Linked DNA regions of Homo sapiens. The protein of the gene in region 2 purifies or fractionates together with the protein of the main gene of each other region. This does not show direct contact. Each region holds a gene or a part of one and is shown on either strand. Other genes may lie near its edges.

Region 1 (3,500 bases), on a different chromosome or scaffold from region 2:
AATTTCTTTAGGATGTAGTTCCAGATTTAGAGTGACTAGATCGTATGCTATGAATATGTGAATTTTCTCATGGTCATTGATACATTGTTCATACCTCTGATGACATTCCAAATTAATCATCCCTTTTGGAAACATTGTATCTTTTGCACTACAGATTCTGTTTTATTTTTAACATAAAGGTAGTGTGTTTCTCTTAACATTTCCCACTGCCTGGAGTAACTATTATTAATGGTGACATTTTGATGTATGAGTATATTTGATTTATTTTTAAAATGGCATTAGCCCTTACATGCTATTTTTAAAAAACTTTTTATAAGGCCCAGTGCGGTGGCTCATGCCTGTAATCCCAGCACTTTGGGAGGCCGAGGCAGGTGGATCACGAGGTCAGAAGATCGAGACCATCCTGGCTAACACAGTGAAACCCTGTCTCTACTAAAAATACAAAACATTAGCTGGGCGTGGTGGCACGTGTCTGTAGTCCCATCTACTCAGGAGGCTGAGACAGGAGAATCACTTGAACCTGGCAGGCGGAGGTTGCAGTGAGCCAAGATCGAGCCATTGCACTCCAGCCTGGGCGACAGAGCGAGACTCTGTCTCAAAACAAACAAACAAACAAACAAACAAAAACAACAAAAAACCAACCCCCAAAAAAACCTTTTTATATACAAGCAAAAAAGTGCATAAATCATAAGTGTACAGTTGGATGAATTTTCATTAAATGAACACACTGTGTAACCAGCCCCTGATCAAGAAACAGAAATGTTCATGTCCTGCCGGGCGTGGTGGCTCACGCCTGTAATCCTAGCACTTTGGGAGGCTGAGGCGGGCGGATCACGAGGTCAGGAGATCGAGACCGTCCTGGCTAACACGGTGAAACCCCGTCTCTACTAAAAATACAAAAATTAGCCGGGCGCGGTGGCGAGCGCCTGTAGTCCCAGCTACTCGGGAGGCTAAGGTGGGAGAATGGCGTGAACCCAGGAGGCGAACTTGCAGTGAGCCGAGATTGCGCCACTGCACTCCAGCCTGGGTGACAGAGTGAGACTCCATCTCAAAAAAAAAAAAAATGTTTGTGTCCCTTGTTGCTATCCTGTCTTCCTGTTTTTGTTTTTTGAGACAGGGTCTCACTCTATCGCCCAGGCTGGAGTGCAGTGGCCAAGATCTCGGCTCAATGCAACCTCCACCTCCTGTGCTCAAGTGATCCTCCTGCTTCAGTCCCCTGGGTAGCTGGGATTACAGGTGTGCACCACCACACCTGGCTAATTTATGTAATTTTTTTATAGAGCTGGGATTTCGCCATGTTACTTAGGCTGGTCTCGACCTCCTGGGCTCAAGCAATCCTCCTACCTCGGCCTCCCAAAGTGGTGGTATTACAGGCATGAGCCACTGCAACAGGCATGAGCCACTGCACCAGGCCTTGAATATCGTGTTTTAAACTTTACTAACCTGAGAATAAAACAAACAAAAAGAGGGTATCTTATTGTTTTAATTTAGAGTTCTTTGATTTTGATTTTGTTTGTGAATGACTTATTCAAGTCTGTGGTAGATTGTATTTTTGCTTCAAAATGTTACCCACCATCCCTCTGTGGAGTACATTTCCCTGCCCTTTGACCTTGGAGTTTGGCCACGTAGGATAGTTAACTTGTCCTGGTTTGTTTGGAATGTTCCTGATTTTAAAACAGAAAGTCCTGTGTCCTGGGAGCCCTCTTAGTCCTGGGCAAACCAAGCAGGTTGGTCACTCTATTTGGCCATGTGATTTATTTTGTCCTATGGGATGTTAGGGAATATTAACATATGCCTTGTTGAAGCAGAAAATGTCAAATGCATCTGTGTGGTTTGGCTCAGTCTGTCTTGTGCTTCTGCCCTCTACCATGAGAACAGCCTGGTTTTCAGAGATTTCTCGTTCAGTCTGGGTCCTGGAATGAGAAGACACAAAGAATAGACTCACAAGTGACTCATAGCCCCCATGTAACATGAGGGAGAAATAAATAAATGTTTTGTAAGTTGCAGAGATTTTGGGGTTGTTTGTTGTGTGGCACCATTGACTAATGCCATGTGTTACACCAAATTTTCTTTGGATTTTTTTTTAATGATTTTTTTTTTCTTTTTTTGAGACAGAGTCTCACTCTGTCGCCCAGGCTGGAGTGCAGTGGTGTGACCTCGGCTCACTGCAACCTCCGCCTCCCAGGTTCAAGCGATTCTCCTACCCAGCCTGGCAAACATGGCGAAACTCTGTCTCTATTTAAAAAAATAATAGGCCGGGCACGGTGGCTCACGCCTGTAATCGCAGCATTTTGGGAGGCTGAAGCAGGTGGATCACGAGGTCAGGAGATGGAGACCATCCTGGCCAACATGGTAAAAACCTGTCTGTACTAAAAATACAAAAAAATTAGCTGGGTGTGGTGGTGCACACCTGTAATCCCAGCTACTCAGGAGGCTGAGGCAGGAGAATTGCTTGAACCAGGGAGTCAGAGGTTGCAGTGAGCCGAGATCGCACCACTGCACTCCAGCCTGGCGATAGAGTGAGACCCTGTCTCAAAATAATAATAATAATAATAATGGTAATACAAAGATTAGCCAGGCGTGGTAGTACATGTCTGTAATCCCAGCTACTTGGGAAGCTGAGACATGAGAATTGCTTGGATCCAGGAGGCGGAGGTTGCAGTGAGCTGAGATCACGCCACTGCACTCCAGCCTGGTTGACAGCGAAACTCTGTCTCAAAAAAAAACATTGAAAAAAAAAATTGAAAAAAAAAGTATTGTGATATCAATTTGCTTTTTTCCTTAAAATTAATTTTCTAGACCACAGTTATGTACCTTAGAATGGATAAATAAATTAGGATATAAAAGGCTTCTGATTAAATTTGTAAGTTAATCAACCTTTTTTCCTGTGGACATCTAACAGTAGGAATAAATGATAGTTCCCTTAATAGGGGAAAGGTTCAATTCTTACAAGGTGGCTTTAGAAACATACGACTCTCAGTCCATGCCCTGAAGTGACAATAGAGATCTACAGACGTGTCTAGTAGTTAAAGTTGGTGCTCCTCGTGTGACGAAGTCTGCACCTGTCTTTTATGACAGTGCATTGTGCACGTAGCTTATGGCACACACAGGCTTTTTCCCTCACTTTCACCAAGTTGCCTTATGGGTTAGCTGTGGCCTTGCTTTGTCATCTACTGTCTAATTATGGCTTTAATCAAGATGAGAATCAAGTAAAAGTTTCTTATCGCAGTTCCAGAGTCCAGGATACTGATGCTTTGAAGTAAAATGCTGTTTGTTTTTAAAATTTCTGTTTTCATGTCTTTTTTATGTGGCATATGTTGAGTTTGGAAAAGCTAAATCTTGAAGACAGAATTTCAGTAGATTAAAAAAAAACCACAATAGAATATTATAAATAGAATTTTCTGATGCATTTTCTTGGATATAATTGAATTGTTAATATCTCCACCAAAAAGGAGATGGTGATAGAATATGGCTTACAAATACATCTTTTACCAGCTTTT
Region 2 (4,491 bases):
GAGGTGCTGAAAAGGACAGCTCCCAGGGCGCTGCGTGGCGGTGGGGTGGGGGGTCCATCCGGCCCCACCCCCACTCCCACCTACCCCCTCCCCCACACCTAGTGCTTCCAGCCTTTCTACGTCCCGCCCAGAACTGCTAGGGTTGGAAGGCACCTAAACACCCATAGTTGGAGGCTCACAGCCAGGCGCCTGGACTGAGGAAGGAGGCTTGGAACAAGCCCCCCACCCCTTGACAATGTCTCGGGTTCCCTTGAACAAGCTCTGCCTGAAATATTTCAATTCTTGATTCTGCTTACTCCAGAGTCTGCGACTGTATAGCACCCACCCCTCTGATCTCGACCCCTTTGGGGTCAGAAGCAGTCGCCCCATGAAAGTTGTCTCATCCCAGAACCTGACGGCTGAGCCAGAACTCTGGCACTGACTCTTCAATCAGCAGGGCCTTACCTCAGGTTAGGAATGCCCCGGCCTCTCTCTTTCCCTGATACCCCAAAGCCATCTCCTGTCTAGGAAAGTGAGTTTGTCGAGGTGGGTCTTCAGGTAGAAAGAACTCCAGAAAAGTCAGAAGCAGACCGCGACTGGAAGTGGGAGGTGGGAGTAGGGGCCCATGGTTTTCTTTTCGCCCCCCCCAGGAAGGACGACTGCTATCCGATTTGAACAGATTTGCACTAATTTTGCAGCAATCCCACATGCCTTTACAAAAATAATATTATCTTTGTTTTTGTCCTAGAATCCTTGGTTCCATTTCAGTCTCCTCAAAAACGTAAAACAATTTAATAAAAAATGTCAAAGCAGGGTAATGTAAAAGGATTCAAATAAATGACAGTTGCCTGGGTTTCCCTGGCTTTCAGTCTCCTACAGGAACTCCTAGATTAGGGCGTTTGGAGCAGGACTCCCGGGTCAGGGCGCGCCGCTCCATCCTCTGGCCTCCTGGCTGCAGACCAAAGGACCAGAGGGCAGAGAGGTGGACCTGTCTTGGAATTCTCTGCCTACTCCCAACTCTTGCTGCAAACCACCCCAGTCTCCTGCCCTTCCGTCGCCAAACCCCTAGACTTGGGAGGGAATGGAAACCAGAACTTTGGCAGCAAGGAGCATTGCTTGCGCTTTGCCTCAGTTTCCAAAAGGTTCGGGAAAAGAGAGGACAGATTCCTGTTCTAAAGTTGGGCAGAAGGGCAGAGTCCGACAGAGCCTCGTCCCTCATCTTGGGTGCTTTGAGACAGGGAAAATCTCTCGCCGCGTCCAGAACGGAACGCTGGGCTTGGGGTGCGGGGCGGGGACTCCAACTCGCGCGCTACGCTACTCGTGTCTCCTGCTCGGATAGTGACTGTAGAGGTAAGGGTGGGAGGGTGGAGGGAGGCGGATTAATCCCTTAATTACGCCGTGATCGGCGTGGCACCTGCTTTCCGCCTGCCCAGCTCCCAGGGGACTCCGGCACTAGGGGGTGGAGAGAAGGACGAGGGAAGGAGGAGGGCACGAAGAGGCACCGACCGTACCCAGGCGCACCGGCAGGAGAGCGGCACCGTGGCTGCCGCAGCGCGCAGAGGCTGTGGAGGGGCTTACGGCTCCCAGCCCACGGGTCTCAGACCCAGGGGCTGGGCCCCCAGCCCCCAGTCCCGATCCCAGCTGGGTCGAGCCATGCTGCGCTACCTGCTGAAAACGCTGCTGCAGATGAACTTGTTCGCGGACTCTCTGGCCGGGGACATCTCCAACTCCAGCGAGCTGCTCTTGGGCTTCAACTCCTCGCTGGCGGCGCTCAACCACACCCTGCTGCCTCCCGGCGATCCCTCTCTCAACGGTGAGACCCTGCCTCTTGGGGATATGGGATCCTGGGATGGGGATGAGGTGAGAGGGCGGCGTGGAAGGGAAGGAGAAGCGCTCCTGTCCCGAGGTCCGGGATTGAGTGGCGCCTCCCAGCGCCTCCCTGGGTCGTGGGGTCTAAGGGATAATTTGGAGCTTCGAGCACATGAGTGGGGGTACCCGCGGGAGGTCGAGGGCTTGGGAGAAGATGGCTACTGAGTCTTTTTACACCTCCTTCCCTTCCCCTACAACGCCCACCCCAGGTGAGAAGAACCGTTGCTGGTAACGGGCAGGGAAGTCCGAGCTAAGAAAGGCCCGGGCCCAGCGCAGGGAGGGCAGAGGAGGGGGCACAGTCTCCCGCCGGCCTCGGCCAAGCCAGGTCACTCGGTGACCCACCCAGGCAGCTGGTCTTCGGAACCCCGAAGTTTCCCAAGAACTCACTTAGGACCAGAGGAAGCCAAAATGCTGGATGTGTTTGCTACGGAGGGGATAGGGGCGGCGATCATTTTAAGGAAACTTAGAAGTTTGTCTTTCAGCGGCGGGACTCTCAGCCGGCCCACCCCGGCAGAGCTGTGGCGGGCGGGCGGAGCTGGCGGCGAGGTCGTTACCGCTAATTACGGTGATTAATAAATGACTGGGACAGCGCGCTCTCCCCTAGCGCCGCGGGGAAGCTGCGGGAGCCGGCCGCCGCCAGCCTGCGGAGAGGCCGGAGCGCGCCCCCTGCCTGCCGCATCGGGAACCCCCGCTTTACCGGGCGCTTTCGCGTGTGGTTCCCTCCAGGTGCACGCGGTCCCCATCCCTCTGCCTCGACCCACTCGAGTCTAGTGACGAGCACTGTGCTGGGGACTCGAAGGTGGAGAGAAAGGAGACCCTGGCAATATGTGTGTGTTCATGTGTGGGGCACATCAGGTGCTGAGGGAGGAGCCCCAGAGCCTCATTAGCATGGCCATTAGCTATTCATTAGGCTGCAGTCGAAGCATCTCCTGAGACCGGGAAGGGTAGAGGGGGAAATTCCAGGGAAAGGGCGCCTGCAGCTGTGTCTACAGGAATTAGGGGGAAAAGGCCGACCAGAAGGGTGTGGTCCGTATAGAAGGATTGGGGAGAAAGACGATGGGGGAGGAGCCCGATTCTCCAACCTCTTGACCCTCCTAGATTTCCAGGAGGTTAAGCACAGATCCCTTCTCGCTGGCACCCCGCAGAGTCCCGCTTCTGCTCACCTAGCGCGTTTACAGAGTGTTTTCACCATACTTTGTCTCATCTAAGCTCGAAACTTAGTGAGGTATGCAAGGAAGGTGTTGACAGACACATTTTGCCGCCGAGAAAACGCTTTATAGAGTGAATGGTGCCCTAATCGTCACAAAAGCAGCATGAAGCAAAACCTAGCGATAACAGATCAGTCCATTTCCATTACACCTGAGGGCTATACCAAGGGGAAAAAAGAATATTGGGGCCTGGTAGAATTTGATTCAGGTAGAGACTGTAGGAGCCAAGATAAGGTGCATATGCTGGGAACACAAGCCCTTAAATAATGGCAGAGTAGTGACGTTTATCCCCCAAGGGCTTTACATACATTATGGTCTTAGAGCAACCCTATCACTGCTCTCACATCACAAAGAAAGAAACTGAGACTGAGAGAAGTTAAATAATTTGCCCAAGTTCTTACAGCTAGGAAGCGTCAAAGTCTGAGATTCCAGCCCTGGTTGGTTCAACAGCAACACTTGCTCTCAATCACTCCAGTGTTGCTCACCACGGGGTGTTCCAAAATTGGGAATGGGAGGAGATGGAGGAGAAGAGAAGGGTGAAAAGCAGAGATTTCCATTTGGAAGGGAGGAGATGGAGAAAATTACTCTCCCAAGTGGGACAGAAATCGATCTTCTTGACTCCAGGCAATTAAAATAAACTCAGAACAGCGCCAGCACGGGTCAGCCTGTCCAGCTTTGTCTACAACAGAACTTCTAAGAGGGGGGGCAGGAAATGAAACCCAATCTCACAGGCGGGCTGGAAGCGGGAGGTTCCTGCAGATTTTGGAACAGGGTAGGAAGGGGGGAACAGGGGGAGGGGGCAGGGGGCAGAACAGATGCTTGAAGTGGTCCCTGGTTATTTTACAGCAGGTTATTAAAGGCTGCAGTGGCACCTACTGGCCGCCACGGGTTACAAATCCACTTTTGTTGGCTGGACTAGGGGCTGAGAGTGCCGGAGTATAACAGGCTCCGGGATCCTAACCGTGCTGCAGAAGGTGAAACAGGCCAAAGTCTGCAGGCCAAGTGACAGGTAGGACAGAATATGTGGATGAACTGATCGGAGTGAACAGGGGAAGTAGAGGAACATCAATCAGTAGAATAATCTATTGGAAACTATGCACCTGTCAGGAAAAGGAGCCTTACTAACATTTCTACTGCTATTTGCGTTCAATTCCTGTGACTTCACAGGACCCTTGAAATGAAGCGTGATTATCCGGGGTGTCAGTAAGAAGGGCCCTGTGCCGATTCATAGAATCCAGGTTGACAAGCCCTTCTAGGCCCGGCCCTGTCACTCCCGTCTTGCCTTTCATAAGGGATCCCAAGCCAGTCCACATTCCCAATTTCACTGAGCCAGGACCTTGCAGAAGTCAAGAACAAACTGTTGGCTCCAGTGCACGGTTTATGGTCTTTCACTGAGCAAGGACGATCCGTGAACCAGTGCAGGTGGAGATGGAAA

Evidence for each region. The genes of interacting proteins can lie anywhere in the genome.
Region 1: the proteins of ROBO3 (region 2) and CTPS2 purify together in Homo sapiens (affinity purification with mass spectrometry; one large-scale study listed by BioGRID and IntAct). This does not show direct contact.

Annotation. Positions count from the first base shown.
Region 1 is NC_000023.11:16,699,170-16,702,669, reverse strand, and holds part of CTPS2 (CTP synthase 2), read left to right. Parts: intron 1-3,500. UniProt on the Homo sapiens protein: Catalyzes the ATP-dependent amination of UTP to CTP with either L-glutamine or ammonia as the source of nitrogen. Constitutes the rate-limiting enzyme in the synthesis of cytosine nucleotides.
Region 2 is NC_000011.10:124,863,946-124,868,436, forward strand, and holds the start of ROBO3 (roundabout homolog 3 isoform a precursor), read left to right. Parts: upstream 1-1,486; 5' UTR 1,487-1,632; coding exon 1,633-1,792; intron 1,793-4,491. UniProt on the Homo sapiens protein: Receptor involved in axon guidance during development. Acts as a multifunctional regulator of pathfinding that simultaneously mediates NELL2 repulsion, inhibits SLIT repulsion, and facilitates Netrin-1/NTN1 attraction.